Regions from separate parts of the Homo sapiens genome. Here region 2 is linked to region 1. The links come from fine-mapping of genetic effects on gene expression. A gene starts in region 1. The other region holds a variant in brackets. All regions are shown on one strand. Distances are from middle to middle.

Region 1 (5,361 bases):
CCACAGTAGTCACTGGGCACATGACAGGAGCTTCTCGTGCCTGTTTTTCTTACCGAGGTTCCCGTACAGCACTGACTTGAGGAATAAGCCGTGGGCTGGGGCTACACGTGTCTGGTGCTTGCCCAGGGGATCTTGGCTCTCCAGAATCGTCTTCACCTGGGCAGGTGCCAAAGCCCCCAGCCCCACGGCCACCAGCACAGCCGTCATCCTCCGTACCTGTGACCCAGAGCCACCTGTGACCCAGAGCCGCCCGTGACCCACCAGCACAGCCGTCATCCTCCGTACCTGTGACCCAGAGCCGCCCGTGACCCACCAGCACAGCCGTCATCCTCCGTACCTGTGACCCAGAGCCGCCCACGACCCAGAGCCAAGACTGCACAGGGGCCTGCCCACCCTCAGCCCCACCCCCTGGGGACGGCCCCAGAACAGAGCCTACCTGTCTATACAGGAAAGACTGGCTCTCAAACTCCAGGTTCCAGAACCGCAGCTTCCTGGAAAAATACGTACCTGTAGGTGTCTGTGGGGCAGTGTTTGCCATCCTCAGCCTACTATGTGGCCTTGGACGGGAGAGTGACAGGGTGGGCCTAAAGACGAGCCTGGTTCCCACTAGCTTGGCCACCAGGGGCCCTGGCTGATCTCCTGCCCCCAGTGAGGCCCATTGGAGGGGCTTAAAACCAGAGAAACAATGCTTGGGCAAGGAGGCAGCAGGACCCTGGAGGCTGGGCAGGTAGCCTGGCCATCCCAGAGGGGCTTGCCCTGGGCCCTCACCTAGGGTCCTGGTGCAGGGTCTGGGAACGTGGCTGGTGCGGGTGCCAGAGACCCCCAGTCCTGTACCTGCTGCTCTGCCACAGAAGTCTGGGGCTGGCAGAAGTTCTTCCCCCCTTCAGGGCTCACCCCAATAGGGGAGGTTCTGGTCAGAAGCTGCCACCTGGTGGGTGGCCCTCGGGACAGTGCTGGGGGCAGCAGAAACCACCCCACCAGAACCACTGGCACCAGTGAGACCTTTCCAGTAGCTGCCAACATTCTTCCATCAGGCATGGCAGGGGTTTTTCAGAGACAAGCAGCCTTCCCTGTTCTCCGCTCCCCAGCCTGGGGGGAGGGCACAGCTGGAGGCTGGGGGGCGTCCGGGCGAATCCCCTCCAGCTGTCCAGGTCCTGAGGACTCCCGGCTGCCTGCCTCCCGCCTCACCTTGCCTTAAAACTGGGGGAGGTGCTGGAGCTAAAATCAGCACGTGACTTGAGGGCAGGGCCACAGCCCAGGGGCCCTTCCTCACCTGCTCTCCTCGGGGGTGACCAAGGGGCTGGCTTGGCCTGGGGAAACGGAGACCCGGCGCAGCGTTCGCACGGGGCTCGGCACCGGGCTGCCAGCGGACTGGAAGGCGCTGAAGTCGTGTGTGCCGAGGAGGTGCTGGGCGGCTTCCTGCATGGCGACCATATCCAGGCAGCTTCAGGGACCAGGGTGACCGTCAGGAGGGTGGGGCCGGCCTGCCCGCCCCCTCCCCGCTGTCAGGGCCACACTCACTCTGCCGGGAGAGTCCAGCATAGGTTGCGTTCAAACACCGGCAGCTCATCACGCCGGTGACAGCCAGTGGCCAGGCGGTACAGGTAGGTCCGGGACGTGGCTGCGTGACGAGCGTGGAAGTCGCTGGGCACTCGGAAGGCCCGCAGGACCCTATGGCGGCAGGTAAAGCTCACCGGAGGAACGACCCCGCCCGCCCGCGGTGTCACATTGGCTCTCCTTCCCCCTCGAGCTCCGACCAGACAAGGAAGTCTGTCCAGATCTCCAGCCTCCGCCCGCGACAGATGGAGTCGGGAAGGCACAGCCCCAGGGCTGCTTAGGTCGCGGGCTCACCTGATGGCCGGGTGCCGCAGGTGTGTGTTGAGGGCCTCGGCCAGGACCTCGGGCGGGAAGGGCGGCCGGCCTGAGCGGCGCTGGACGTCCAGGTGCGCCGCGTTGCTCAGGGCGTGGACCCCGGCGTCCGTGCGGCTGGAGATGGTGAACCTGACCGGCTCCACGGAATTCAGCCGCTCGGCGGCCTCCTGCAGGACCGAGCCGCGGGGCGGGCGGGTGAGCGAGGCCGGACCCCGGGGACGCGCGGGCGGGAGCCTCCCCCTTACCCCTCACCGGGCGTCCCGTGACCGGCTGAGCGCACCTCCAGGTAGTTCTGGACCCCGACGGCGCGCTGAGTGCCCCTGACGGCCGCGACCCCGCTGCGGGCAGAAGCGGGCGGAGGTTACCGGGGGCGCCCTGCCCTGGGGTCTCCGCCGCCGTCTGAGGCCAGGGCCGCTTCCTTCCCCGAACGTTTGGAACCCGCGTCCAGAGACATCCGCCTGCCCGCCCGCGCCCTCCTTCCCGCCTCCGCCCGGGCCCACGTGGCGCCCGCCGCTGCGCCTGGGAAACCTACTTAAAGTCGGTGCCCACGTACTGGAAGTACACAAGATAGCGCGCGCGCACGGAGCCTGAGGCCGGCGCCGAACTCATGGCGGAGCCCAGCCGGTGGCGTCAGAGGCGGCCTCCAGCGCAGGAATCCTGCGCGCGCGCGGACGCGGCCTGGTCACGCCCCCCCCCCCTCCCCCCCGGCCCCGGCCGCTCTTGCGCCTGCGCGGTGGCACCGCGCCACGGCGGCCAGAGTCGGGGAGCGGAGGCGGGGCCGGGCTTAGGGAGCGGCTGCAAAGTGCCGGCCCGCCGCCGAGCGCAGGCGCTCTACCTCTATCGCGGCGCCCCGGGAGGCGCGCACCAACCACGCGGTCACCCCGCGCTCTCGCGGGCGTGCATTCGTTCACTCGCTCATTCATTCGCCGCCGCCCACACTCCCCGAGCGCGCCCGTTCGCCGCGTTGCGGCCAAGTCCTCCCAGACGTGGTTTTTGCAAACGCCCTGAGTTGCGCAACGGCCGGGATGGTTGGAGCGGGCGGGCCCGCGCCCTCCCCGCGCCCTCCCCGCGCCCCACATTTCCACCGACTGTCCCCGGAGACGGCCGTGGCAGGCCCCGCCTCACTTCCGGACCGGGGTGGTCCCTGGACGCTGCGAGAGGCGTTTGGCGACGCTCCCCGGCGGTGACAGCGGGCGGCGCGCGCGGGCGGCGGACCTTGGCGACGCTCCCCGGCAGTGACAGCGGGCGGTGCGCGCGGGCGGCTGACTTTGGCGACGCTCCCCGGCGGTGACAGGCGGGGCGGGGCGCGGCGCGGCGGCCTCATTCCGGGGCGGGCGGGCGCCGAGGCGGCGCGGGCGGGACGAGCGGTCCGGGCCGGCGCGGCTGCCGCTCGGCGCCGCGGTCCTCGTGCCAGTGAGCGCCGCGGCCGCCGCAGCCATGACCGTGGAGTTCGAGGAGTGCGTCAAGGACTCCCCGCGCTTCAGGTGCGCCGCCCGGGGCCGCCGGGGTGGGCGCAGGCCGGGGGCGTCGCTGTCGCCTTTGTGCCCGGCGGCGGGGTGGGGAGGTCAGCGCCGGGCCGGGCCGCGGCCGCCGGGGAGGGGCTGGAGGACCGGCCTCGGACAAAGCGGCGGCCCCGCCCCGCCATGCCCCGGGGGTTGGAACAAAAGACGCTCCTGCCCTGTGCGGCCGCCCCGGGTGGAGGGCGTGCGCGTGGGCAGCCGTGGGCACCTCGGGACCGTCCGCCCCCGCTCTGTGTCTGCACCTCCACTGGGCTGAGCCCCTCCCGGGCCCTGCAGTCCAGCTCTGGCCAGGGTCGTCTGGGTCCGTGGGGGCGTCGGCCCCTGGTCTCTGACTTGATCCTGTGTCCAGAGCAGCGCGTGGGGAACAGGCAGCTGGAGCCGCGTTTAAGGCCTGGGGTAGGGTGCTTGGAAACGTGAAGTGGTTTGAATGACCCAGGGGCTTGGAGGGGTGGCGGCCGAGAAGAGCGGCGGGGAAGGTCAGGTAGGGGGTAGGGGTTGTGTGCACACCGAGTCTGCATGTTTTCCATCATTCGTGGCGTGCAGGCGTGTACACCTGCGTGAACTACATGTTCACAGACGTGTGCACAAGTGTGCATCGGCTTTGCTTGGTGGACATTTGGCAAACGACAATGGAGGCAAAGAAACCTCTCTGCATCCCCAAGTGCGCACCTGCGTGAGGCCCCCTCCTCTGCACGAGCTCGTGCGGGGTGCGCTCTTGTGAACTTTGCCCCTCTGCGTGCCTCCCTCCGGACACCAGGCCTTGCACAGGACGTGTGGATGAGCTGTGCCACGGGGCTGTGCTTGCTTCTGCATGTAGCCTGCCGATGAGTGCACGCAAGCGTGTGCACACACCACCTGTCTGTGTGGGTTCACGTACTGTGTTAGCCATGTCAGCAATAGACACATCACCTTGTACACGCGTGTTCCATCACTAGGTACACATGTTGATGCGTGTCTGTGCAGTGTCTCCTTGAACACACATGTATGTGTGGTACCAGTGTGTGCAGGCATGTTTGTGCATGAACATGTTTGCACATGTGTGCTTGATTGTGTATGTGTGGGTGTGCACGCGCGCGCTGGGTCTCTTGGGATCTGCTGGCAAGTCAGCATGTGTGTGGAGGCACGGGGAGCCTCTGTATCCCTGGAGCCCTCACCAGGAGGCTCAGGAGCCTTGGAGTGGGAGGCTCAGGGCCAGCCAGGAGAGTGGCCGCCAGCCCTGGGCAGAGGAACTGGGGCCATCCTCTGCTCTCCCATCTTCTGTTGCTGACCTGGGAAAAGGGGTTGAATAACTTGAGCACCCTAGGATCCTGCATTGAGGACCCGGGCTGTGGGGAGGTGTGGGCATGGCCTCCCTGCTGGGGGCTGGACCCTGGCTGAAGCACCCACCTTCTCCCTGGCCCCTCCGTCAGAAGCCTAATGGACCTCCTCCTCCACGCAGACGGCCCTGTACTGCCCTCTTCCAGTCGTGTGGGGGTGCTGGAACCCACTCACCTCTGGGCCTTCTCTCTGGTAACCGGCTCTCATGGGAGCCTGTTACAGGAGCCAGTTATGGGGGCTGTGGGGCTGCAGTAGGTGCCGTAGAGTGACTGCCCTGGGAAAGTGCCTCACCCCTGTGGGGCATGGACTGGAGTGGGGAGATGAGAATGGCCTGGCCCAGTGGGTTTTGGGGTTAGGCTGTGATTTAACTGGGGTTCGAGGGGCTCCCTGAGGCTGTCCTGGGGGCAGGCCCTAAGGGCGTAACTTGAGTTTCCTGGCCTACCGCCAGGTTGGGGGGCCAGGCAGGGTGGGCGGGAAGATGTGGTCTGTAACGTGGAGCCTGGTCGCCCCAGCCCGGGAGAGGGGGACCCTGCCCGCACCCTCCTGGTCTGGGGAGGGCCTAGTGGCAGCCCAGGTGCAGTGGGCCGGAGGCCAGGGGAGCCCGTGTAGGGGAACCGCCTGGCCTCTGTTCAGTGTGCCCCTCCCCTGGGTG
Region 2 (5,304 bases), 230 kb before region 1:
CAAGTTTCTTCTTTTCCACTTTTACTTATGAGCAGGATATTGATTACAAAGTTTTTCTTCTTTAACCAAAAAGGAAAGACAACGGTTTGTGTGCACTTCCCGACATACCTGTGTCTTCGTGTGCCTGCCTTCCCTCCCTCCTCCCCACCGGGCCGGACTGTACAGAGCCCTGCTGCGGCGTGTTAGGAATGACCTGGAATTGTCAATAAACAGATGCTGCTGTCATTGTGCCTGGTCCTGAATTCCTGGCCCGACCCTCGCCCCTGAGGAGGTGGCAGAGGCCTAGCCCTGCCGCCCTCAGTGACCTCCGACCACTGCTTGGGAGGAGTAGCTCAGACCTGGTGGTGCTGACAGGGTCTGGGCCTACCCGTGCCTGTGCTGCCTGAAGCGGAAGCCGCCTGCTCCTGCCACAACTGCTGCCTGTGGTGGAGCGGCGTCCCCTCTCCATGTGGAACCCCCCCGGGCGGGGATCCCCCAAGGCCAGCTACGGGGGAGGCTGAGCCGGGAGGATCGCCTGAGCCCAGGAGTGGAGGCTGCAGTGAGCCTGGATGGCGCCACGACCCAGGCTGGGTCCCAGGCATAGCTTCCCGCTGACTTCCTGCTGAGGCCGGGGGTCGGCTCCCGGGCCTGAGACATGGTCACCGGTCGTGGATGAGAGTTTGGCCTCAGGACCCCGAGCCAGGGACAGCCACAGCGGAGTGGTGGCCACTGGGCCTCTGAATGGCCGGCGTCCCGACCCATGGGCCTGGGCTGACCCCCTCGTCCCCGCCCTAAGGGAAGCCTGTGCGGGGCGGCCCTGCCCTCGGCTCCTGTGCCACATCCCTCCGTTGAGGATTCCAGGGGTCATCCCGTCCCTGACCTGTGGCCCCCACGGCCGTGGGGCTGTCGCGACCTTGCGGACCCCACCCTGGAGGCACGTGCGTGCCGAGCGGACTGGGGCAGTCCCGCACCCGGCGACCTGGGAGTCCAGGACGTAGGGCGGAGCAGTGGGGCGGGAAGGGCCTCGGCGCCCCTCCAGGACCGGAGGACTGGCGTCCAGGGTCACCGGACAGGCCACCGGGGCTGGGTCTGACCAGACTGGGGCGGGACGCGAAGCCGAGGCTCCCGGGGAGGGGTCCCGGCCGGCGTCCGGGGGATGGCGGTCTCCTCCCGGCGCTGGCACGGGGCGGCCTGCGGTCTGCGCGGTCCCTCCCGAGAGGCGGAGGAAGGCGGCGGGGAGGGAGGGGGGAGGAGGGAGGAGGAGGCAGGGAGGGGGCCGGAGCCGAGCGGAGCCGAGTCGAGCCGAGCCGAGCGCATCGCAGGGAGGACCCGAGGGCGGAGCGGAGCGCGGCGGGCCGGGCCGAGAGACCCCAGAAAGGCCCCGCGTCCCTCCCCGGCGCCCCCCCCCCCGCGCCTCCTCCCCCCGGCCGGTGCCGGGGTTGCAGCGAGCGGCGGCGGACGATCCAGGGAAGCGCTGACCTCTGCGGAGGCGGCGGGGGCTCAGCATCGGGCCGGGGCCGGGGGGGCGCCGGGGCCGGGGGGCGGCGCTCCGGCCCGGCCCGGCCCCGCCCGATGTCCATGAGCGCGAACACCATGATCTTCATGATTCTGGGGGCGTCGGTCGTGATGGTGAGCGGAGGGGCTTCCCGCGCGCGCCCCCTGCTCCCCGCCCGCGCGCGCCGCCTGGCCCACCTCCCGCGCCTTGTTTACCGCCCGTGCGGCCTGCGCTCCCCTCCCCGGCCTGCGCTCCCCTCCCCGGCCTGCGCTCCCCTCCCCGGCCTGCGCTCCCCCACCCCGGCCTCCGCTCCCCTCCCCAACCTGCGATCCCCACACTCCCTACGCTCCTCTCTCCGGCCTACGCTCCCCCCACCCCGGCCTGCGCTTCCCCCTCCCCGGCCCGCGGTCCCCTCCCGGGCCTGCGCTCCCCCCACCCCGGCCTGCGCTCCCCTCCCCAGCCTGCGATCCCCATACCCGCTGCGCTCCCCCTACCAAGGCCTACGCTCCCCTCACCCCGGCCTGCGCTCTCGCTCCCCGCTTGCGCTGCCCCGACCCCGGCCTGCGCTCCCCACCCCCAGCCCCGCTTCGTCCCGCCCGCTCCTTGGCGCTGACCGGTCATGAGCTCTTCCAGGCCATCGCGTGCTTGATGGACATGAACGCGCTGCTGGACCGATTCCACAACTACATCCTCCCGCACCTGCGGGGCGAGGACCGCGTCTGCCACTGCAACTGTGGCCGGTGAGTCCACAACCGGCGCCGGCTCGACACGCGTGAGCGCACATGTGTGGCGGGGCCCACTCGGGGCGCGGGGGAACCAGCCCCACGCAGGCCGCGAGCCGCCTTCCACCCTTGAGGGCTGCCAGGTGCGCAGGGGGAGGAGCTGTCTCAAGGTGGGCGGGGGTCTCCTGGGGGCGCATGGCTTTAGGACGCCGTTCCTAGAGGCCTCCAGGGTGATGGCGGAATGGGTCACGGGGCCTCCTGGTCCAGCCTGGAGGCCGGAAAGCCGCAGCCCAGTGTGATGTCCACAGTGGAGACCCAAGCCAGCCTCATCAGGGCTGGGGCAGGAAGCGCCTGCTGGCACAGGGCTGGGCCCTGCACTGAGTCCCTGGGCAGGGGAATGCAGGTCAAGGCGGGAAGGGCCTGCCTTGAGGGGCACTGGGCACCACCCCCGGGCTGGAGAGGAGCTGAGGGATGGGCTGGGGGGGCAGCGGGGAGGTGGAGCTTCCTCAAGGTCATTCAGATTGAGGGGAGCGCCCAGACCCCCCGCACCCACCGTGTGACCCCCTCTGTGCACGTGTAGCGATGGGATCCTCTTGGCCATGCATGTTTGTACGTCCATGTACGAAATAAACATCTTCTCATGAGACGCGCATGTGTGTGGCGTCTGTGCATATACATGTGCGTACACACAGCCCCCGCGCACGCACGCATGCACTTCCACCCCTCAGGACACCCTCACGCAGTGGCCGCTGTTAACCCTGCTGAACAGATGAGGAA[G/T]TGGACGGAGGATTTAGAGGACAGGCTTTTCCAAGGTCACACAGCTAGTGAAGGACAAAGGGGGCACCAGCCCAGAACCCGTGTTCGTCATCTCTGCTGCCTCCTGCTCCGGGGGTCTCTGTGCATACGTGTGGGTGTGGGGCATGTGTGTTCAGGACAGCTGCATGTGTTGCTAAGCGTGTGACATGCCTATGGGTGCAGCAGGCGTGTCGATGAAGAACACGGGTGTTAGAGAAGGCAGAGATCGGGGTGTCTGTGACCCTCACGTGTGCTGGGCACAGGGTAGGGGGTAAGAGCTTGTGGGGTGGCCACATGCTACCAGAGAGCCCCGTGTCCCTGGCTGGCAGGTCCGACTGCTGAGCAAAGGCCTGAGGTCGGCTCCACTGCCTCCCGGAGGCTGGGCCCAGACCCGAGCTCCAGAGCATCAGAAAGGTGCGGCCTCCACGCACGTGGGCTGGGGCCGTGTGCATCCGCCTGTGGCAGCACACTGAGGGCTCCGCGGGGCAGGCAGAGGCGCCTTAGAGTATTTGCACAGGGCATGTAGGGCGGCTCATGCCGTGTCCAGAGCACGCGTGGACTCGGGTGGGTGCACGCTGAAGGCAGCCGTGTGTGGGAAGCAGAGCCACAGCCTGCTGTAGACGGTATTGCTGCGTGTGTGTCCATGTATCTATGCTCTGTTCACATCTCTACATACAGGATATGTACGTTCAGCGTACAGAGTGCCCTTGTATATTGACAACATATATGTGTATGCAAAGTACATGTATGTCACAATATACAGTGCCGTGTGCTCAGGGACATGTCAAGATGTCTCCGTGTAGCTGCAGCCAGTGTGTGTGCAGACAGCAGTCTTGCACATGCGGTATCTGCGTATCCACCATGCCCGTGCACTGCCATGAGAGGCTCCCTGTGTGTACACGCTGGTGTTCAGAACGAGTGTGTGTACATGTGTAGGCCTCATACGTGCCTATACGTAGACGTTGACGTGGAGAACGTGTATGGAAATCAATGCTCCAAAGTCTGTTGGCAGGCAGCGTCCAAACTAGACATCCGTCCATGCACGTGACGTGGCGCCCCGTGGAGAGGGTGGCTGCGTTTTGCAAAGCCAAGCGAACATGCACTCGCGTGACACACCGTGCACAGGGCGGGGGTGTGGCGCTCCCGGGGCCCATGTCCACAGTATCACGCCATGTCCCGTGCATGTGGCTGGTGTGTATACGTGATGTACACTGGGCCTCAGGTGGACACACCTGGTGTGTGTGGTGCAGGCAGGACACACGTATGTACATGTCACAGACATACGTGTGCAGATAGCATATCTCTGCCCAGGCCTATCTCCTGCTTTCACTTGGGAGACCTGAGCCCTCCAGGAAGGAGGGCCAGGTGCAGGGAGAGGAGCTACAGGTACCCAGGCCAGCCATGGTGGGGGACACAGGCTGTGACCTCTGACCCCCAAAGTTACTGAGCCCCTGGGGTGGGTGAGGACTCTCTAAGGGGTCAGGAACAGCTTCCTCCCCTGAGGGCCTCTGGCAGCTGCACATTCTGGGCAGTGGTCAGCAGCTGCCCATTGGTGACGATGGACGATGGCTGTGGACAGGCTCGTCACCAGGTGATCGGTGGCCACCAGGAATCAGCCACGGTCATGGTCACTCCTCACCGAGAGCCCTGCCACTGAAAGCGGCCACTTTCCGGATATGCTGAGGGGACTGACCTCCGGGAACCCCAGAAGAGCAGGAGGGCTTCAAGGGGAGCGTGGGGCAGGGGACACCTCCTCCCTGTTCCTGGGCTCGGGCCCCAGGACCCCCCAGATCTCACTGAGGGAAGGCACCTGTGTGGTCCCCGCTGGGCACAGGGATGGCCTGGAGAGGGCTGCAAGACCCTGGGTTGGACGGACAGGCTGGGCTTTCAGTGTGGGAAGTACTTCTGGTTGGGGTGTGGAGGGTGGGGTGGTCTCTGGGTCTCGGCTGAAAACCAGGCTGAGGCGCTGCTACGTCACCGAGGGGAAGGTGGGGGAGAAGCAGGTCTGGGGAGAGAGGAGCTATTTTTAGGCACAAGTTTAAGGTGTCTGCGGATCCCACGTGGAGACACAGGCAGCTGGAGCTCGGCGGAGATGTGGGAGGCAGCCAGGAGTGTGGACCGCAAGGCGCGTGGGGCCCGCGGGCTCCACTCCCAGGCCCTCCTGTTGGACTAGGGATCCCAGAGTTGACTGTCTGGGATGCCAGTCCGATCGGCAGAGTCAAGGCCCGGAGACCTTCCTGGGACAGGGTGAGCTGCTGGGGCGAGCTCCTTGGGGAGCTTGTGTTGCCCCAGCAGCAAGAGGCCAGAGGCTGT

Evidence for each region. PIP is the estimated chance that this variant, and not a neighbour inherited with it, causes the effect.
Region 2: its variant is the best candidate, but not a certain one, in a credible set for the expression of ACAP3 in nasal epithelium (TOPMed, PIP 0.57).

The regions. Positions count from the first base shown.
Region 1 is chr1:1,305,764-1,311,124 of GRCh38, reverse strand. ACAP3 (ArfGAP with coiled-coil, ankyrin repeat and PH domains 3) reads left to right here and starts at 3,195. Exons shown (of 24, transcript NM_030649.3): 1 at 3,195-3,356. The coding sequence starts at 3,310. PUSL1 (pseudouridine synthase like 1) reads right to left here and starts at 2,528. Exons shown (of 8, transcript NM_153339.3): 1 at 2,405-2,528; 2 at 2,153-2,210; 3 at 1,852-2,039; 4 at 1,522-1,671; 5 at 1,274-1,444; 6 at 437-491; 7 at 54-216. The coding sequence starts at 2,481. RefSeq lists silencers at 1,887-2,016, 2,027-2,166, 2,197-2,266, 2,487-3,166, 3,207-3,376 and 2 more.
Region 2 is chr1:1,536,594-1,541,897 of GRCh38, reverse strand. It overlaps TMEM240 (transmembrane protein 240), which reads left to right and starts at 1,274. Exons shown (of 4, transcript NM_001114748.2): 1 at 1,274-1,608; 2 at 2,108-2,214. The coding sequence starts at 1,552. SSU72 (SSU72 homolog, RNA polymerase II CTD phosphatase) reads left to right here. Exons shown (of 5, transcript NM_014188.3): 5 at 1-225. RefSeq lists a silencer at 2,395-2,689. The variant G/T (reference allele first, on the strand shown) is at 2,974.